Linked DNA regions of Homo sapiens: region 1 is linked to region 2. The links come from fine-mapping of genetic effects on gene expression. Tissue or cell type: fibroblasts. Region 2 holds a variant in brackets; the other region holds the start of a gene. All regions are shown on one strand. Distances are between the middles of the regions.

Region 1 (8,000 bases), 210 kb after region 2:
CACCCAAGCTAGAAACTCTAGCCTCCCCTTCAAATCCTCCTCCACCCCTACTCATACAGATCCAATCCAATGACATCTGGGTCCTCACTTCCTCCCCGTGCCATAGTTCAGGTTCACACTATCTCTTACTGGTACTGTTGCAGGAGACTCCTGACTAGTTTGCCAGCCTCTAGTCTCATACTCCACCCACCCTGTCTTCCACGTTACCAATAGAATGACCTTTGTAAAGCACGATCAGCTCTGCTCTTGAGCCTTCTATCTCTACCTACTGCCTCTAGGGCTAGCAAGGTGTTCAACCTACCTGGTTCCCAACCTACTGGCTCAGCCATCTCCCTTCAGTCCCTCTGTCAGAAAAATCACTTCCTGACCCTTTGACAGTACCCTCTTTTTCCTCTCATATGCCCTTCAGTTTTTCCTAGAACTCTTTCCGTTCCTCTTTCCTGCTTTTCCCTTCCCTACCCTACCCAGCAGGTTTCTAAGCATTACTGCAATAGCCAACTCAACTCTGCAAAGCTTTTTTCAAATTCTCTTCCCCCTCCATCCATTTTCTTTGTTGTGATGCCATAGTGCTTGTGGCAGGCAGGAGCACCCTGTTTTAGAAGAGTTTTCTGTGTCCCATTAGCCGTGGGTTACCTGGAGACAGGCATCGTCACTTGTGCATGTCTGTGCTGCTTGTAGATGTTGGCACTAGGGAGGTTACTTCATGCATGTTTACTGAGCTGGCTGCAATTATACAGAAGACTTACAAACATATAAGTCAAACCACGTGAAACTGCTGTTCTTCTTGGTCAATATCAGCAATTTCATATGTTTATTCTAATCTGTTTTGTTCAGTATTTTGTATTCCTGTTTTGGCTTTCAGAAGTGTTCTTACCTTCAACCAGACTGCCTTAGAGCATGGGGCTCAAAGAAATATTTTCAGCTCTGGAAGACATTTTCCATCCTACTTCTACATATAGAACTTTTCTGGCCAAAAATGGATGCATATCTCAGAAATGTAATAAGCAATACTCTTCTCTCTTCCTCTTGACAATTGTTTTTCAAATGGTTTATCATAAACATCAGTGAGATCTTGAGGCTGTTATAAAGTGATATAATGGTAATTTCTAGAATTGTAATACATTATCCTAGTGAAAAGAAAATGATGAAGTTGTGAATCAGGCAAAAGTGATGAATTGCTCATTTCCATGTAGTTTTTCAGGTGGAAAGTAGATGCAGGTATCAACTGGAGGATGTGTGAATATTTTGTCTAATGGTTTTGATCTCGATATAGAACTAGAGTTGTTCTTAAATTAAGAATGTCTTTCATATTCTGCCTTTTCACCAGCATCACTATTAAAATAATATTCTTAAGCAACAGCCAAAAAATTATTAGGATCTGCTGGTTCTATAATCAGATGTTTTTGCTGGACACTTTAAAAACCAATAACAGCTAATCACAGTGTCCTCTTTTGTGCTGAATTGAATTTTGTTTTGGTTTTAATTCTCATTTGAACTGCTGGGAAAGCAAGCCTGTTACATACCAACACTTGCCACCTTTCTATATTTGAATGGACCTAAGTAGTCTTTGCAAAAAATGTCTAAGACTGTCCTATCCGGACACACCATAGGGTTTTCCCATGGAAATAATTATATCACAAACGAATCTTTTTTCTAAAGTCTGTGGTTTTAGGCTGCCATACTTCTCAATCCCCTGACCAGGAGACAATAAAATTGGCTGGGGCCTTAATTTGAGGGAATACATATTTGATTGTGGGCGTGGTCTTCTAAGACAATGGTAAAGGGAAAAGCAAGATGTAAAATTAAACGTTGAAACAAGCTAAACTGGTTTTCAAAATCTTCTCGACTGTAACACATCTAGAAGTTCTAAATATAAGAAGGTTTGAGGGATTATCTAAAACCAAGGTATTAAAAGATCAGGTTTTTAGAAGATTTTGATTCAGTACCTTATACTTTTTTTTCAAGGAGTTGAGCAAGAAACCATCAAAACTTAGGAGAGTGATTTTAGGAGAGGGTGGTCTCCAACTTGTCTTTATGTTTGCTTCCAAGATAAGTGTTAAGCCCAACCAACTAGCAGACTATTCATGATCTGGGAATCCTATCAGTGGTCATCCCTGTATTTGACTTGAGTCTCTCTAATTTTTTATAGGGACGGCGAAGGCCAGTTGGTCAGCCAAATGCATAAAAAATGGTGCAGAAATTAGTGATGCTTGGAAACATGGCTCATAATCATGATAAAGGCTTATATGTTGGTATGGGTTGAGAATGTTGGCCTCATGGTATCTGGGTATGCAAGAAGGCAAATCATTATTGGTATACTAGCCTTTATGTTGAATATTTAGAGAGCTCTTGAAAACACCCCTTCGATTTGGAGTGAGGAATTCTAATGAGTAAAACTCCATGTAGAAATAACCATATCCGATTAAAAAACTATTTTGATTTTCATTCCAAGAAACTACCAAAATGTCAGCTCGATATACTTGTGAACATGTTATGCTTATTTTTAAATAAGGAAGGGTGCCTTTTTACAAATTAGGCTTGAGTTTCTCTTACTATCATATATATTAACTATAGACAAGGGAGTGGGTTCTAATAACAAATTGCTACATTGCTATCGTTAAATCCGTGTTTGAGTTTTCTTCCCTCTAATGTATTTTCTCCCCCTCTTTAATTTATATTTTTAAAAAGCAATGTACTTATCTAGAAATTGTATGAAAGACAAATATTTAAGAAAGTAAATAGAGACTATGGGCACGTCCTTTGAATATGTTTTGCCAGGGTCGAGGGGTAAATGAAATAAACTGATACATCATAAATGGACCACACAGGAAAGAAAGTGTCATGCCTATGCAAAGACATGCATTCTCCTTAGAGACGACATATATTGCTGTCGACCAACAAAGTCACGTGGTGGGAGGGGGCTCTTTTCTTTCTCCTTCACATCCCCTCCTCTGATGTCACAAATCTATTTTTTCCTGGGAGAATTAATTAGCATTCATTGGGTGTACTTGGCTAGAAGAAATGAGGTGGGGAGAAAGAGAGAGAGAGAGAGAGATCGAGATTGAGATCTTAAGAAAGAGAGCAAGGAGGAAGAGCCCGGTGGGGAGCAGGTCCTTCTCCCCCACCCCCCTACCCCCAACTCCCACTGGAGCCGCATTGAGACTGTAGGCACCACCGGGCGCCGAATGGCTGTTTTCTAACTGGGATCCTCGGTGACGTATGGCTGCCTGCCCCTTGGCAGCTGTCTTTATGGACCAGTAGGCAGAGCGAAATTGACGCTGACAAGACTTTTGCATCTTGGAAGGGACTGTAATCTACTGTAGTGAAGAACAGAGCCTCTCAATCAGACGGGTGTAAATAAGAGACGGAGGGGAGTCCAAAAGAAAAGGAAGAGGAGGAAAAACAAGTGTGTGTTGGGGGGAACAGGGGGAAAAGCATTTTTGGTGGATGGTATGAAGCCAGCCATGGAAACTGCAGCCGAGGAAAATACTGAACAAAGCCAAGAGAGAAAAGGTACCCAGCGCTCTGACAATAGCCTGTTTAAAGCTTTTCACTGGGGGGTGCTTAAAAAGGGTTAGCTGGGTTTTGTCTCTCTTTTAAAATGGCTCTGAGACAATCCCTATGGCATGGTCTTGCTTTCAGGGTTGATTTTTTTCCTGTGGGCTGATGTTAAGTTAATAGAGCAGCCTTTCTTCAATCCATTCCTGTTCCAAATCTTTCTACCGACGTGATATTTCATAGAGGGATGTCTATAGTTTGTCACCTTGGGCTGATGCATTGGGGAAACTGTCTTTTTTTATTAATATAATTAATCGTAACTTAGGTCTTGTGTCCTGCATGTTATATTCCAGGAACGTGGAATGTGTAGTTTTCTGCTAATGCTGAGGAGGAACTGGAGGGGCATGCATGTTAATTCTGCTTTGGTTCCGCTAATGCTGTAGTGATTTGGGCATTCTCTAATTTTCTTATTCTAATATGATTGCTCTTTCTTGTATCAGGCCCTGACTACGACATGTAATAATCATTTACAGTTGGAGCTTCAGAGAGGGGACATCAGCTCTGTCACCCAGTGCTGATGGAAAGGCAGGGCGGGGGATCTTCTGCTAATTATGACTTGGAGACTGGGGGGAAGAAAATTGATAAAGGTCCTATTTCTTAAAGAGAATCTTAGAACGTACCACAATTTTCATATACAGAATGGTTTTTTGGAGAATAAAGTGTTTTTGCAGTAAGAAAATGGCAGAAAGGAACTAAAATTAATCTCTTTTTTCTAAATAATGACTGATTTCAAGTTTGATGTCCCATAGAATCGGCTCAGCCACTGTTAGGTTAATGGATCTCACTGCATTGTAATTTTCCCTCACTCAAAGTCATAGACTGTCATAAATGCCCAAAAACATATTCTGTAACCGCAGTGGCTCTAATATAAAAAGCCATCATGCTAAGGTTATTTCTCACAGCCCTTGCGTCCACTGATAGTCACTAAAGAGTAATTCGCCAGTACGGGGACAAAACTTCGTTTTATTTATAAAGATACAGGCTGAACCATATGAAATTGCTGATAGTCAACCATTTTAAACCTACAAAAACGGCAATTACATGTACTTCAGCTTCACAGTATGCTGGGGTAAAGACTGCTTGTTTTTATATAAAATTTCTTTGGTACACAATAATATTTTATCCTAAACAGAGCAATTTTACTTTTTAAATTAATTTTTTTAGGTATCACACAATACACATAACATAAAATTTACCATTTTAAGTATACGATTCAGTGGCATTAAGTACATAGCACCTTAATTTTAAAATCGTTTGTTTAGTTCAATCCTCTTACCAAATCTACACCTCCCCACCAAAAACCCAGCCTGTATTTTCTTGTGTGTCTTTAAAAAAAAAAAATCTTCATCAATGACCAAATAGCTATAAGAGAAGCTCTTGGGAATATTTATCAAGATGAAGAAGTGAGATCAAAGTTTTTTCCATGATGACTAGAGACTAAGTTGATTGCATGTTGTCGGGGTATGATAATGTAATAGCATTGTCCCAAGGAAGCCTATCACGATTTTATCCTAAAATGATGATTTTACTTAGTACATACTTTTAATTTTTATTAATGTGGTATTCAACCATGGCAGATAAAACCGTTTTGGTCTTTGCAAAAAAATCCCTTTTTTAAATTTCTCTCTGAAAGGAAGCAAAGGTCATATAACCAATATAAAATCATTACTACACAACTGTGTATCTTATCACTTAGTCTTATGGACTGCTATTATTTTATGTCAATTAAATCTTATTTAATAACAGATCTACAGGTTGCTAGTACATCCCTGACAACCCGTATATGAAAAGTCATTAGTTGTGATTTTAGAGACAAAATTAGAAGCAAAAGATAATTTGTGAAGGAACTTTAAAAATTACCTAAATGTATAAACACTAGCTGCTTGTTAAATAATTCAAAAATATCACACTACCAGAAGCTAGTGTGACATGTATGGTACATGCTTGAATAAGAATACAAGCCAGGGGATTTGTTTTTCCTGATCTACAGCAAGAGGGGTTGTGATTGTTGTGTGACCCACCATAATTGTTGATCTGGAGGGTGGCTTATCTAATCTGCATTTAGATGAACAAGTTCATATGCTGGCTACACAAAATCAAAGCCCACACAAGACACTTTGTAGTTTCCCAATTTGCTCACCCATCATCATTAAGGTACACATAGGATAAAATGATAGCCACAAATGTTTCTGCGTGATTGTCACATCAGTATTCCTTCAGATTTAACTTTAAGTTTATTAAAAAATTATTTTTCCATTGAAATTAACATTTGAAAACTTGACATAATTATTTATAGAATGTGTTATATAATTCTTGAGCTGGTGGATCCGTTTTTTATGTTTTTCTTTTAAGCCTTTCAGCAAAGGATTTTATTCATTAAATTTAATCCTGTAAATTTTGTCACTTTACGCAGAGTTTTTTATGCACATATATATTTTTTTTCCTGTGTTTCTCCTTTCCCATCTGTTTTCAGTGGTTGGTGATGGAGTGATGCCTGTCTCTTAATTTGGGGCATTATTGCCCAATGGCTAATACCCAATAGCATGTGAATTAATATCTTTGGATAATTATTGCAGTGTCTATTAAGAACTAAGAATGTAAATTAAACTTAGCTTTATAAATTGACCTTGCTTTTCTAGTTGGGATCTTTCCTGGGAGTTTCAGCGGGACAACACAACCCAGCTATTGTGATTCACTAACTCCTACAAAGAGAGCTCTTTCTTTAAACTTAATCACAATGACTTTGTTTCTACTTTAGACAAAATTAATCCATGTCCTTAAAAAAGGAAAGCATTTGTGTTTTTTCAGTCTGATAGTTTTCATCACAGCATGCTACCAGATACCAAAATTCACAAGAGTATTTAGTAGATATTTAGGGATTTTTAAGGAAAACAAGCAGATTTTCTTAGATGGATGTAAGAAATGCCAAATTATTACAAATGATAGTTTTTAAATTAAAAGCATTAAAGTGTGAAGATTGAGTAAGCAGATTCACTGACATGGAATAAGCAGAGGAAATGAATAAGACAGAATCAAAAGAAATAGATCATGGAACCCAATAATAAAAAGATGGAGAGTCGGTTTCCATTGATTTCAGTGGAGTATTACTTGTTGTCATTTCATTTGTGAAAATAAATGCATCTGAAATTGCTGAGAGTGGATAATCACTGAGTAGAAAAACAATTGAATCATAACAACTTTGTATGCTCTATTATGGGGGAAAAATCTATCTGTTATGAAAATTATTTTCATTATATGTAGGTAATTGAATTCTACTGAAACAATTATAGTCAGGTTAGTTAACTTCCTATGAATCGTTGCTGAAATAAATTACAGGCATCAAATTAAATTCCTAACCACACAGGAAGAAAAATATAGTGAATGGGAAACAATGTGTAATTTAAAATAAATTACAGGATATAGTCAAAGTAAGAAATGAATTTAAATTATTGACTTCCTTAAAAAATTAATACATCTATTTTAATCTTTTTGATCAAATAGATATAATTTCTTATTTTTTTTTTTAATTTAGCAAAATGTATGCACTTTTGGCTCTCATTTTTCGTTTAGGAAGAAAAGCACTCCTCTAGAATATACGACTTGTGTGATTAAAAACCCAAAGGGACACATAACACACGTCACACTATTCCTGATGATCTGCGAATTATTGCATTTTGAAATTTGTGTTGACATTTTCTAACTTGGCTATATAAATATGGTACAGAGGAAGTTTTAGATGCAGTTATTATCTGTAAGAATTTGCCAAGGTGGACATCTGAAGAGTTGGTGTCTGGGGAATAGGCTGTAGAGAAAAGTGGCTGGCCAGATGGTGCGGAACATATGTGGTAGGTATGATACAGCTTCCTTTGATTTTTTTTTTTTTTTTTTAGAACATTTAAATGTGGAAAAGATCTCAACGAGCCATTTGGTACATCTTCTACTTTTACATTATTAATTCCATTAGGATTTTTTTAAAGACTTGGCCTTGCTATTTCGTTAGAAAAAGAATTCTGGGCCATTTCTGGAAATTTAGATTTGCCTTCCCTGAAATTGAGTGTAAACCCTGAATTAAGATTATTATGATTTTCAAGATCACATTTCTCTGTTATTTGGAAGTACAGGGTCAATTTAGACTAAATGATCTTAATAAAGTGACTTTGTCTTGATGTATCTGAGAACATGCAAAATAACCAGTGTCCCCATGACTTAAACTTCCCCTCTCTGTGACTGTGATGGATTGGATTGGATTGTTACAAAGACACTCTCGCTTTTTTCTCCTTTGGACCAAATGTACATACATGGGAGATAGTTGGCCAGGAGTAGGGATGGCCATGGAACGGAGGAAGAAAGTGACCACACCGACTGTTTTTAAGAGAGGAAGGTTACAATCCCAGTTTCACAAATGTGCTTTGTTGTTCATTCATTTATTCGTTTAATGGTGT
Region 2 (8,000 bases):
CAAAATTCAGTTTCTCTCCCTGGTTAACCCCCTGGAGTAACAATCCCCATTCTTTTCAAATAGGATTGTCGCTCCTTAGGTGCTTAGTGTTCCCCACCACCAGTATTTTTATGCAAGTGAGTTAAAGTGAGTAATGACTAAAACTCAGACTTAAAGATGAAAAGAACAGGACTACATCCTCAATCAGCTACAGAATTTCCATTCCCTGCAGCAACAAGGGTATGGGAGAATCAGCTAGTTTCTTTTCTTCTTTAGTCAACTTTTAGCTGGGCACTTGGCCATCTGAAAAAGACAATTCCAAGCTCCTGCACCCTTAGGAGGGCTAAGTAATGAAGTTCAGGCCATTAGTAGGAAGTGATCAGAAGTGCTGTGGGCCGCCTCTGGGTAGTACTCTTAAAGCAGTGGTTCTCAACTGGGGGTGACTTTGCCCCCTCCTCCCCCAGCCCAGGAGACATTTGGCAATGTCTGAGGACATTTTTGGCTGTCACAACTGGGAGACAGTACTGGCATCTTGTGAGTAGAGACCAGAGATGCTACTAAAACTCCTACAATGCACAGGACAACCCCCAAAACACAGAATTATCCAACCCCAAATGTGAATAGTGCCAAGGTGGAGAAATCCTTAGAGGGAAAGGGCATGCCCTTGGCTTTCTCTTTCCCACTGGCTGAAAGGTGCAGTGGTGCACCATCTTGGACCATGTGGGCCAAGGCAAGAAACCAGGGAGGGTGGAGCTATGAGACAGGTGGAGCTGCCATACTCTGGACTCCTTACACCCAGACTGCCATGAGATAGAAATACACTTCTCAACAGTTTGAGCCACTCCTCTTCTGGGTCTCTGTGACAGCAGCCAACTAATATTCTATCTAATGCCATAGTATACCATATATATTGTATTTTTTCATTCATAGAACCAGGAATCACTCTACCTGAACTATATCCACTCTAGGCCTGCATCCTTCTGCCTTTCCCAGGAACCCCCTAAGCTCTTTCTCCCTATCTTACCCCTCTCCATCTTTCTTTCCTGCCTCTCTAGATGCTGGCTTCTTCCTTGAGGTAGAGATTGCACCAGGCCCCATCTGACTTATCTGTCTCAATCCACACCTGACTTTTCCCATAAGACTTCACCCTCCTACCATCTCCTGCTTCTATCCATAGATATCTCATTTCCTCCCACATCCATTTTCTGAGGTGGAGGAATAATCTTTTCTAAAATAATCCCCCTCTATATACACATACTTTCTGGCCCTTACCCTGCTATACTGTCTTCATATAACTCACCACAACATACAATTCTATTTATCTGCTTATTGTCTATGTTCTACACAAAAGATTTAATTTTATGAGCCCCAAAACTGTATTGTTTACTACTGTGTATCCGGTAAATAGAATACCACGGTACAATAGAAATGCAATGCATGCCACATATATAATTTTAAATGTTCTAGTAGCCACACTAATAAAGTAAAAAGATAAAGATCAAATTTTAGTCTTTAACCTCAATAGTCCTTCTCTAAGATGTTATCACTATAAAGAAATTGAGGTATTTTACATTCTTTTTCTCATTCTTCTTCAAAATCTAGAGTGTAATTTACCCTTACAGTGTATCTCAGTTCAGACTACTACAATTCAGGTTCTCAGGGCCACATGTAGTGGTTACAATGGACAGCGCTAACATAGAATACTTGGCACATAGCCGGCATCCAGTAAATATTTGTTAAAGTTAATATTCTTCTATACCATTTTAATTCTTCTGTAGTCCAGGAATAATACAGTAATGTCACGTCATTAATACCACCCAATTGACTTAGCCATTTCCTTGTTGGGCATTTAGGTCTTTTCCAATTTTCACTTTTTAAAATAATTCTGTAATAAACATCTATCTGGTTCGTACCTGTTTTTCCTTGGAATAAATTCCCAGAAAGTATTAAATATGGTAATTGCCCCAGAAATGATATGTCACGTAAGACTTCTAATTGTTTATGCTTGGTTCTTGTTAATGACTCTTGTAATGTTAACAGGGCAGGTATTGCTGTGATGGTTATAATTACAAACATATTAGTACTAATGTTTTGTCTGCTGCAATGCATCAGGCACTCTGCATTAGGTTATGCATATCTTATAGATGAGACACACGAGGCTTGGGGAAGTTACAAACTTAGCACTGGACTCGCACTCAAACTGAGATCTGGGTTAATCTATTTTCAAAGACTGGGTGTTTTACGCTGGGACAAATTAAGAAACTAAAACTGTTTTAGTTAAGAAAGAAAACAGAAAGGAAGAAAGAAAAGGCTAAGTAAAGACAAGGGAAGGAAAACGAAGAAAGCTGAGGAAAGGACAAAAAGTTAAAGGCTGGAAACCCGGGCGGTGCAGAAGCGACCCTTATCTCGCCGGTGCAGAAGCACCGTCCGACCCCCGGCGCGGGTGCCCGCCACAGTCCCAGTGCCCCGCCCGGTGCAGCTCCCTCTCCGCCGGCCCCGCCACCCGCAGCCATCCCACGCCTGCCGCCCCGGCGCTCCACTCGGGGTAGCCGATTAGCAGGCAGCTTCCGGCCTCCAGCACTGCACCGCCTGCGGTGCGAACGTGACGTCCGCGACACAGGGGGGGACTTCCGGCGCGCCGCGCCACGCCACGTGTTCCGCACCGGAAGCGCGCTTCCAGTCGCCCCGGCAACAGCCGCCTCCCTCGCGTCCCCCACTCCCCCTCTGTCTCTCCAAGGAAAACTAGGCCCCTGCGCGGCCAACGCCCAGGATCCGCAAGCTGCGCGCCCACGAGGTGACTTCGGGGACGGCTGGGTTTCCTTTGGGGAGTGAGGGAGGAGCTTAGACGCCCCGGGCCCTGGCTTCTTCTGATGCGCAGAGAGCCGAGGTCTTGGACGTCACGTTGCTCTCATAATTATCTTAATCCCGCGACAAAAGGTGGGGCCGGAGGCCCATGAGATTCCTAAATCATTGCAGGTTAATTGTGAGAGGGGACCAGTCCCAGAGGCTCTCAGCTCTGCAGTGCTTCCGAATCACTGGACGACTCTTTAAGAATTCTGATCCCCGGGCCCCCATCCCGGACCAATGAAATCAGAATCTCTAATAGTGGGGCCCTGGCATCGGTAGTTTTTAAAGCTGCCCAGGTGATTCTGGGGTGCCGAGAACCACCGTGTTAAGGTCTGTAGGTGAATTCGGATTTTGCCCATCCAGTCCAGTATCTGAATAGAAGATCGCCCAGGACAGCCACATACTTGAAGGATGTCTAGGATATTGCCCTCTCTGCTCAAAAATTCGGGTTTCTTTCTTTTCTCTTGCACTTTAACCTCTGCAGGAGGTCAGCTTTTGGTGGGAGTTATCTTGAGACATCTGGCGCCTACAGTTTATGGGCCTTGTGTCTCTGCCCACTTATCAGTAATGAGCTGTAATTGAACCAGTGGCCAACGAAGTGCATTTTAGCTCTGAAATCTTGATGTTCCCTTAGTACAGATCAGATGGTTCTGAACAATTTTATTTTTTTCAGGAATGATGTTTTTAAACTCGTTTGACAGGCTAGGCTGTGTATTCAGCTGTTCTTCATCTCAAATCAGAACAATATTACTTAAAAAATCTAGACTAAAGATTAGTAACGCAACACTTCTAGGATTATTTATGCTCACAGCCCCCATGAATTGTAGGATGAGAGCTACCCTTTAAAAATACTATTTTTGCTAGCATAATTTATCGGAATAACAGTCTCTTTGTAATTTCAATGTGAACAGAAACCATATATTTTTAAAGACTGCTGGTTAGTAACTTGGAATAAGCATAACTGAAAGCAAGTTCACAGGTGTATAAATCCCCTCTGTGTGTTCATTGCTGTGCTGGGGAAGTATACAAACTAAAGTTCCAGAGAGAAATGTTCATTCTGAAACTGTTCTATAGATGGTGATTAATCATTTTGGGTTTTTTTTTAAAGGATAGGGTGAGATGAGAATGACGGGGGAAAGTTTTGAACAGTTAAGGCTAGAGTGTAAATTGGAGAGTTTGCAAAGTAGGTACAGAACTTTTTTTGAACAACTTCTCTACAAGAGGAAATTCAGCCACGGAACAGCTGGACAAGTGAAAAAAGAATGTAGTTGATCAAATATCAGATGAATTGAAAAGATCTTTGAAAACATAATGTATTTAAATATTTGCTTCCTGAAAAGATTTGGTGCTTTATAGTCAGTTTTTTGAGTTACTAGGTCCTCAGAGATTTTGGGGAGTAGATGCAGGAGGAGAGAACGTTATCAGGAAACAACAGACAAGCTCAACAATTTCAGCAGCATCTAAGAGCATGAAATATTAGCTATTATTTTTATGCTGGAAGGAAAATAGGAAACTTAAAAGGAGTAGATTGTAGAATCCATGCCTACAGGTAACTGAGTAAGTGCCCAAGTAAATGAGGCATAGTGAGTGCCTATAAATTCAGAAAAGAGAGATTAACATGGAATTACCGTGAATATGTTTATAGAAAAAAGTAAATTTGAAATAAGACGCCTGAAATGTACTAGCGATCTTAACTACTTTAAACTAGCCATGGTTTTTGCTGTTATGCTCTTAATTTGCAGAACCTGCCTATTCAACCCTTATTACCTTATGGTCACACTAGGTTTTGCTTATGAAGGACATGCTTGCTGTGAAACAAACTTATCTGTTTCCTCTTTTGAACTATGTTATCATTATGTCATTCTCAGTCATCCCATTGCTTGTTGTGTTCCTGAGTCAGAGGGTAACTTTGTT[C/T]CTGGCCTCATATTTCACTTTTGATTCTGATATTAGTCACAAGGGGATTCAGAGAACTTGCAAATAAACCCATTCACAAATTCATCACACTTGCTGACAAATTAAACAATGCCCTTCTGTGGGTGGAATGTCATTTGTATGAAAAAAAGAATTGTTAACTGCATCCTTTCAGCCTTACTCCTTCCCCATGCTATGCCTTCTTTGTGACAGTACTTATTACAACATCCAGAAGAGGGTAAATTGGGGTTGGGGATTGAGGGAATGAAAAGAAAATAAAACTCAGTTTTTTGGCTCCCTTGCCTATCAGTTTTAACTGTAGCTATTATAGACGGGGAGATGCAGGCTTTCTGAACACAGTGGCATGTGCACTTGAGTAGGCCTGTGTCCTGCCCAAGATGGAGCTTGGATGTCTGCAGGTGGAAGAAGGCCATTTGGACTTGAGCCATCTTTGATGTCCAAATCACTAAGCAGGGACCATGCAAAGACACAGGAGGGAGGCCATGAGGGCATCAAGCCAGATGAGCTTGCCAGCCTCAGCAACCAGCCAGGGATGGGGGCAGGGCTGCCCAAGTAGGTGGGGCAGGAAGCCCAGCCCTCAACAAAACCCTATTATATTCTTTGTCTTAGTGAGGAAGTTCTTACTGTTGTGTGTATTATTGGAAGACATCTTCTGTGATAGGGTTATTATTGCATGTACAGAGAGATTCCTTGGAACCGCATATGACTCAATCTATCTCACTCAGATTTCTCACCATACCTTCACTTATTTTGCTGCAGTGTCCAGCAGATCTCCTTGAAACAGTGTGTACTGAAGACCTAACTAAATCCTCCAAATTACCTGGTTGGTTCAGAGAACCAAATCACTGGAGCTTTGTAGGGAAGGTTTGACTTTCAGGGCTTTAGCCAGAGTAACTTATTTAATGATTGGCTTTTAATGTGTTTCTGTGCAAAGATCAAAGCAGGTGAATTTTCATGTATTTTTAGAATTCTAGTAGAAAAGGAAGATAGGAAAATCTAGTTCAAGTATACATTCTAGTTTTTAGGGGAATTTGTGTTTTTATTTTACTTTTTTGGTTGCTACGATTTGTCCTATATTCTATATTTATAAGAACATAAATATGTAATTAAAAGAATATATTTGATGGCACTACCTGTCAACAAAGCCACTTATTTGTGAAATTTTTTGGTAACTTGATGGAAATAGTCACATTTTATCCATTGAAAACTACAAAGCTCTTATCTATTGTTCTTTGTGTATATTTATGCATTAAAAATAGATCCTGCAGGATGAGCAGATGTACTGAAGTGTAAATCCGTTTTTTAAGAGAGGCTATATGGAAAAATATATCATTCAAGACTCAGTCTCTGCCTTGCCTATAGGCCTCGTCAGTGTTTAGTGAATGACCTCAACCCTGTTTTTTTCCTTCCTTCTTTGGTGGTTGAGGACAGACAATGAATGGTCTCTGTACTCGCCTGGGCTCAGCTGGGTGGTGGCCATTATGCCATTGTGCTCACTGGAGAGGGCTGCCGGGTTTGTAGAGCTGCGGATCCCGGCCTTCCCTGACATTGCCAATCTCTTTTCTTTCAGCTCCACCAGCCCATTGGAGAAAAGTTACTGTTCAGTCCCTGAAGGCTTGTGCCATAAAAGAGTGGGAGACATTCCCAGGGAGGTGAGGAATGAAAGATCGAATTAAAGACCATTAAAGACCAAAGGGCATCTAAATCTGCAGCAACCATCAGCTCTCTTTTCTTTGAGAGGTAGTAGTCTCTGAAGGTGTTGCTGTAATGTCTATAATTATTTAGATGTTGGCTTTTCAGAAACCCAGGCATTCTTATTAGCTCCTTAAGTTCTCCATGCGTGAAGAAAATAACCAGCTTAAAAAAGCTAATCGGACCTATCTCTAGAAGAGGACCTCTTCTTCCCTTGGGAGCTAACTGATATTAACTGACTAACTGATTGCTTAGCAGGAAAGAATATATATTCTTTCCAGGGAATAGAGATTCAGAGCTCTGTCCTGTTTGCTTTCTAAGCCCTGCTGATTGATATGGTTTTGCAGAATTTTTATTGTTATTTTTAGTTAAGTCTTTAAATGTTTATATGGATATTTAAGAAAAGATCCAATTTCCTTATTTAGTCATGGAGAGTGTTTTTTTGTCCCACATATTAGCAACCGGTCAACATGATTGCTATTGGTCATAGTCAGTTTTCTTGCCTCCACTAGTCTTTCTCCAAACCTAATCATTTATGAAACGTGTGAGAATCGTGAAGTTCGTCTACTGATTCCCAAGTGGAAACTGAGGAACAATTAGGATGCTCAGTATATTCAGAGAGAATCTATACAACTTCAAAATGTGTTAACATGAAACAGGGGTGGGCAAAATAAAAGCCCACAGCCTGTTTTTTGTACTTCAGGAAGCTAAGAATTGTTTTTACATTTTTAAAGGGTTGTTTGGTGTGTGTTTTTTTTTTTTTTAAAGCAAAGAACGTGAAGACTATGCGACAAAGACTGTATGTGGCCCACAAGCCTAAAATATTTATCTCGCCCTTTACTGAAAAAAAATTGCTGGCATAAAGTAATAATACTGGAAAGACCTAGCTAAAAATAATTATAAAGCTCTATGCAAGTTGCTATTCCTTTAAACATGTTTTTCTATGCCTTATTTGACTTTTGAGAGACGAATGTGTAATTCTTCAAGTCAATTATTCAAATTGGTTAATTTGAATATAGGATTTTAGGAATCTTAAAAAGACTTAAAATGTAAAAGGCTATTACAAGTACAAGTACATTTTGGGATTTAGGGAGAGAAAATAATAAAGCCAAGAGTGAGATGAGCACAGTCTACATACAGCCTCAGGACTTTAAACTTGATGGAAGATGGCAGCAAGTTTGATTATAAATGTCCCAGTGGTCAAAACTGTGAGGAAAGCATAATCAAAGCAAAGCAAAATTGCCTACAGAGTTTCTTGCACTCCATCATTAACATAAATTCATCCTTTCATAATGTCCTGGGTCTTAAGAGTCTAGCACCTTAGCTGATGAATTAATATATTTAATTAATGTAGATAGTGGGCACTCTGGGCTTATTCTGAACTGCCTCTGGTTCAGAAGCTGGAACTGGCTTTCTTCAGTCATCTCAAATGATTCTCTTGGCTTCTTTCTTGCATAAGTGCTCAGGATGTACCTGGGTGATCTCTGAGGCCTTCTAACATAGCAGCCCTTCTACCAGATGATTTGTTGGATCAAAGTTACCTCTCCTCA

What was found. PIP is the estimated chance that this variant, and not a neighbour inherited with it, causes the effect.
Region 1: GPM6B starts here. The variant in region 2 is fine-mapped to the expression of GPM6B in fibroblasts (GTEx, PIP above 0.99).

Annotation. Positions count from the first base shown.
Region 1 is chrX:13,812,357-13,820,356 of GRCh38, reverse strand. It overlaps GPM6B (glycoprotein M6B), which reads left to right and starts at 3,264. Exons shown (of 8, transcript NM_001001995.3): 1 at 3,264-3,513. The coding sequence starts at 3,453.
Region 2 is chrX:14,024,550-14,032,549 of GRCh38, reverse strand. GEMIN8 (gem nuclear organelle associated protein 8) reads left to right here and starts at 2,658. Exons shown (of 5, transcript NM_001042479.2): 1 at 2,658-2,773; 2 at 6,329-6,410. RefSeq lists silencers at 2,318-2,457, 2,492-2,691 and enhancers at 2,068-2,568, 2,569-3,069. The variant C/T (reference allele first, on the strand shown) is at 4,741.